2 separate regions of the Homo sapiens genome follow, and region 1 is linked to region 2. Evidence: fine-mapped expression QTL. Tissue or cell type: whole blood. Region 2 holds a variant in brackets; the other region holds the start of a gene. All regions are shown on one strand. Distances are from middle to middle. Region 1 holds the start of DNAJB6 (DnaJ heat shock protein family (Hsp40) member B6). Region 2 overlaps DNAJB6 (DnaJ heat shock protein family (Hsp40) member B6).

Region 1 (2,902 bases), 81 kb after region 2:
GGTGGACTGGCGGAGGAGTAAGGCGGCTGCATATAATTCCTTTCAGAAATCATGAATCGTTCTGATACGCAACACTATTTGGAAAAGTGCGGTTAAACACGAAGCAGCAGCAATCAAGCTTTAATGGTTAACGTCTGTTTCCTTTCTTCGGTCTTCACTCTAACTTTTCTACTAAATCAATAATTTGGCTTAAATTGTAGCGACAAATCCTTACTAAAATTCGCAACTCAATAAAAACGTTGAAAACTACAAAGAGCGCCGCTCAGCCTACTCTTCCCAAACAGGCTGAAGCCTCCGAGCTCGCAGGCGGCACCCCTTCGGTGGTGGCACGATCGTTCTACTTGCGCTGTTTCCTGCCCCGTTTACGTGAGAAGTTAGCACAGAAGTTTACGTCTGACTAGCAAACCCATCCTTTAAAAAATTCGCTAGTGCCAAAACCTTTCTCGAGCCAATATATGATTTGCAGTTTACACTGCGTGTGTCACTGACCTTCCTTAGGTAAGAGTTAATGTAAACTTCTTATATAAACTTCAGTTGCATCAACTACGGTGCAGATTCTTTAACGCAAAGCAAAGCAGACAAACATTCTGAGTGAGAAAGGCAGCCTGCTCTTCCACAAACTTCTGAACAATCCGTCCGGAGTTCTAGAAACAGGGCTTTGCGGTCCCCCACCTGCTTCTTCTCCCTCCGAACTTGGCGGCACGGCTGCGGCATTCCTGCTCCGCAAGCCACTCCCGTTTCTGGTTTCAGACGCGAGTGCGGGAGCCTTAGAAAAAGAAGGCGCTCCACGCCTCCCACGCTGCCGGCCCCGCCGAGCCCCAGCCGAGCCCCAGCCGGCCGCTCCCAGGCCGGGCCCCACCCCCAACCGCCGCCGCGGAGGCTGGGCCGCGTTCCGGCAAGGACGCCGGGCGGGGAGGACGCGGCCGGGCGGCCCCAGACCCCAGCCCCGGCCCCGGCCCCAGACCTGACCCAGAGGACCCCGCCCACCCTTCGCCCCGCAACCCCGGCCACGGCCCCCGCCCCGTCCAGTCCTTTCCCCGGCCGGCGACCCCGGTCACCCCCCGCGCTGTTGCCAGGCGCCGGGTGAGGTCCGCCGTCTGCCGGGCGCGCGCGGGGCCCTAGGCGACCTCCCCCGACCCTCGGAACAGACCCTCACCGAGGACAGAAGCGGCCGGTGGCGGGACGCAGGGGAGGCAGGGTGACGGCCCGAATCTCCTCACAGCTCCAGGACTGCTGCGCTGGTGGTGGCGGCGGCTCCTCGCGCTTTCCTTTCTCTCCTTTCTCCAACAACAAACAGGAAATGCGTCACGCGGCGGCGGCACGGCGGCGTCAACTTCCGCCCGACCCTGACGCCGCGCATGCGCAGTTTCCACTGCCCATACCGCGGGCCCAACCTCGGGGGCGCCCGCCCCACCTTCGCGAAGGTTCTCGGCTCTTCCGCCGCCCCGAAGAGCCCAGGAGACTGGGGGCGAGGGGGCGGGGAAGCCCAGGGCGAGGGGGCGGAGCTCGGGGCCGGGTCTACGGTACCGGGGAGCCCAGACGCGCGGAAGGCACAGAGAAGGCCGAGAAGATTCCAAATGGCACTTATTGTTGGGCCAGAAGGAGCCCATTCTGGAAACCGCGAAGTCGTCGCGCCCTTCATCTTCCTCTTGACCGGCGGCCCCCGGAGCGCGTCTGCCGCCTCTCGCTCCGCGGTCCTGCGGTGGAGCTGGGTGGCATCTCCGCACAGCGGGACGAAAGCTGGGGCGCGGGCGCGGGCGCGGGCGGAGAAGTCCCCGAAGGAGAAGAAGAACAAACCAAGCGGCGGCCAGCGAAGGCGGGCGAAGGCGCCGGCCCCCGCTTGTCAATTTAGGGAAGCCCGGATACCCTAAGTTCCCCGGCGAACGGGAGCGCGTGGAGACTTCGCCAGGGAATAGTGACTGAAGGAAACGGAAGCAAACTGTGGCAGAAAATACAGATGAAGCTTTTTAGGTTAAATCGTGGCAGTAGTTTTTCTGAAAACGCGGCGCATTTTGATAGCTGGACTTTAGGTCATCCCCAGGCTTCCTAGCCTTTCCCGCGTCCTCAGGGGTTCTGGTTCTAACCCTGGAGACCAACACCACATGCGTGTAGATGGTGACCAGCAGGAGCAGGGAGTCTCAGACCCAGTGCAGTCAGACAGGCTCCCATTCCCAGTAGCGAAAGGGTCCCGCAGACCCAAAGCCTAAGGAGCCAACAAGCAGTTCGTCCATGGAGCCTGGCCTGGATCTCCCACTGTCTTCCTCTCCAGCATTCAGCCAGATGTTTGCTACTGTGTTGTCTTAGTCCTGGCCCACCTTATCCTTTCCTTTAAGAAATAAAAATCTCAACTGGGTGCGGTGGCTCACGCCTGTAATCCCAACACTTTGGGAGGCCAAGGCGGGCGGATCACCTGAGGTTGGGAGTTCGAGACCAGCCTGACACATGGAGAAACCCCGTCTCTACTAAAAATGCAAAAAAAATTAGCCAGGTGTGGTGGTGCATGCCTGTAATCCCATCTACTGCAGAGGCTGAGGCAGAATAATCGCTTGAACCCAGGAGGAGGAGGTTGCAGTGAGCGGAGATCACACCATTGCACTCCAGCCTGGGCAACAAGAGCGAAACTCTGTCTCAAGAAAAAAGAAAAATCCCTTTTTGTTACACCTTTCCTGAACTTCAGATCCTGTGGCATGCTGACACTGAATTCCGGGGGCCTGCTCAGCCACCTTCTGAACTAACAACGCTTATGAATTCGTGATCGTTTAAGCCTGGGAGATATTCAAGTAAAAGGCACTTTAACACTTGAATCACTTTTGGTTTAAAATAGCTCGTTAGTAATGAAAGAGTTGGAGAAATGCCACCCTGAATTATGCCATATTAGGATACTGATTACTAACTAGTTCAC
Region 2 (2,902 bases):
GACGACGACAGGTGCCGCGCTCCCCCTTGCCATCATCTCAGCAGCTGCCGAGCACACCCAGGGGCCGGGCTCCCTCTCCACCCCCTCAGCAGACGCTGGCATAAGCAGCCGCGGGCTCTATCTGCAGCATCCACCCCCTCAGCAGACGCTGGCATAAGCAGCCGCGGGCTCTATCTGCAGCACAGAGCTCCTGGACCCGCCCTAGGGGGATGGGGCGCTGGGCGCAGGGGTCGGGTAGACCCCAATACCCCTCCTCACCTGAGAAGCAGATGCCTACCTGCTGGCCATGCACCTGCCGGGCCCCATGGACACCAGCTCCCTTCTCCTCCTGGGGTCGGGGTCTCTCCCTCTCAGCGAAGGGAGGACCCACCTGTGACATGAGCTGACTCGGTAGCCAGGCCGTGTGAAGACGGGGCTCTGGCCCCTTTGCCAAGAGCCTGTCTTGTGTGTGGCCTGGCTTGTCTGGAAGGCGCTCGCGGCTCTGTCCACGCTCCCTAGCTGTGCCCCTGCTGAGGCAGCCCGGCCACGCTCCTGGGACGGCCTGAGGGTCAAGTGGGCAGGGTTGAGGGCACAACAGTCACCTCTAAACCTGTCGAACCACCTGCCTCCCTCGCCACAATCTCAGCAGCAGATTCTGGGATCTGAGCAGTTGAGAAGGACTAATCTTGTTTTAAAAACACCCCCGACCCCGGCCCGCAAGGCGACTTACTGCACCGCCTTCCCCTGTCACCAGGAAGGCCGGACGCCAGGATGTCAGCACTGAGCGCGTGTCTGGCCCAGTCTTGGTCGCCAGCAGAGCCAGGGTGAGTCGACGAGGTTTTCCTCTCGGGACCCTCAATGCCTCCTGTGAAGGCTGCGGGAGTTTCCACCTCATCTGTGCGTTGGGGTGTTACTTTTTTGTTGTTGTTGTTGTTTTGAGATAGAGTCTCGCTCTCTCTAGAGTGCCGTGACGCAATCTGGACTCATTGAAAGCTCTGCCTCCCGGGTTCACGCCATTCTCCTGCCTCAGCCTCCCAAGGAGCTGGGACTACAGGCACCCGCCACCACGCCCGGCTAATTTTTTGTATTTTTTAGTAGAGACGGGGTTTCACCGTGTTAGCCAGGATGGTCTGGATCTCCTGACCTCGTGATCCACCCGCCTCGGCCTCCCAAAGTGCTGGGATTACAGGCGTGAGCCACCGTGCCCGGCCTTTTTTTTTTGAGACGGAGTCTCGTTCTGTCTCCCGGCTAGAGTGCAGTGGTGCGATCTTGGCTCACTGCAAGCTCCGCCTCCCTCGTTCAAGAAATTCTCGTGCCTCAGCCTCCCGAATAGCTGGGATTGTAGGCGTGTGCCACCACACCCGGCTAATTTTTTGTATTTTTAGTAGAGATGGGGTTTCACCATGTTGGCCAGGCTAGTCTTGAACTCCTGATCTCAGGTGATCTGCCCACCTTGGCCTCCCACAGTGCTGGGATTACAGGCGTGAGCCACTTTGCCCAGCCGGGGGTGTTAGCTTTAAAGTCATGTTTTCGCCTTACAGTGACGCATTTCGGAAGCAAGGCTTCTGCCTGCAAAACACCACTTTCATCCTT[T/C]GTAATCGTAATGTTGAAGAATTGCTTTTATTTCTAGTCAGTCTTAACGGTGCAACTTACTGGCGCTTACAAAGGACAGCAGGCGAGCTGTATTCAATATGCTTATGTTTTATTTATGTAGGTGGCATTTAAAATACATGATGTGTTTAGGGTTACATTGTCCACAGAAAGCATCAAATACCACTCCTCTCCCCGCCAAAACCAAATAAACAAAGCCAACTCTTTGGCAACAGTTGTGTTAAATAAAATCCCAGGTCACACTTGTTTCTGGCTCCCAAGCCTGGGTCACTGCTACATGGATTGCGCCAAAAAATTCCCAGCTTCAACACTGCTAGATTAAAATTGCTGGCATTTTTAAATCACAGCAAAGCTTTTCACAATGCCCTCAAGTCCAAGAGGACAAAGGAGAAAGCAACATGAACGGCAGATCCTCATGTGAAAGGGAAGGAAAGTCACTGGGAGGGAGCATGCAGGGAAGAAGTCAAGGCAGCCCTGGAATTCTACTCCGTGCTCAATAAAAACAAAACGTGAAGAAGCAATACATCATGCAAACGAAATAATGACCGGAAGTGGGCGCATCTAGTTAGAATGAAGTGACTTTCGTAAGGAGTCAATGTTCGCGAACTGAAACATGAGTTCAACCTCCTTGTGCCGTCTCTGGGTGTTTTGCGCGTGTGTAAATACCGGCCCGTTTTCCCCAGCATGGCCCTAACCCATGGACACTAGGGAGAGTGCCACTGAGCAAAAATTTTTTGCTAAAAATAATTAGCAAAAATCCAAGAAAAAAATATGGAATCTAGCAAAACCTACACCATATTTGAAGTTGAATTTGCACTACCTGCAAAGGATGAAAATTAAAAGAGTAAACAGAAGGAATGATTTTACATCTGATGTGATTCACGACAGCCTTCTATTCGTGTGGCCGGATTGCTCTGAGGAAAAGGTGCCCTGACGGGCAGGATTCAATGTGTCACTTGCAATATTCTCTAAGTTACACTCTACTGAATTACCTTCTAATTCCAAACACTACGCCGCCACAGAAAGCCTCATTTCATGAATGTTACTCAGTTAGCCATCTGCGCCCTCCTGTACTTCTAAAGCCAGAAATATTCCAGCAGCATGCGGAGTGGTTGAGTAGCCGAAAAGAATGAAGAGGATCCGGAAGCACTAGAGGAAAATGCAGCAGATTGAGAGCTGGAGAGAAGCAGAGAGTCGCGGCCAAGTCCCAAACGTCTGTCCCCGCCACCCGTGCCGTCAGCCCCGTCTCCTGACCCTGCTCTGACTGATCCGTGATCGCATAATCCTGCCGAGCGAGTGTGGCCTCGAGACA

The links. PIP is the estimated chance that this variant, and not a neighbour inherited with it, causes the effect.
Region 1: it holds the start of DNAJB6, and the variant in region 2 is fine-mapped to the expression of DNAJB6 in whole blood (TOPMed, PIP 0.98).

What each region holds. Positions count from the first base shown.
Region 1 is chr7:157,335,399-157,338,300 of GRCh38, reverse strand. DNAJB6 (DnaJ heat shock protein family (Hsp40) member B6) reads right to left here and starts at 1,297. Exons shown (of 10, transcript NM_058246.4): 1 at 1,157-1,297. RefSeq lists enhancers at 65-114, 843-1,346, 1,347-1,849 and silencers at 775-964, 1,025-1,234, 1,425-1,584.
Region 2 is chr7:157,416,198-157,419,099 of GRCh38, reverse strand. It overlaps DNAJB6 (DnaJ heat shock protein family (Hsp40) member B6), which reads right to left. Exons shown (of 10, transcript NM_058246.4): 10 at 1,661-2,902. Among named protein-coding and RNA genes, the nearest start is that of DNAJB6, 81 kb to the right of the region's middle. The variant T/C (reference allele first, on the strand shown) is at 1,573.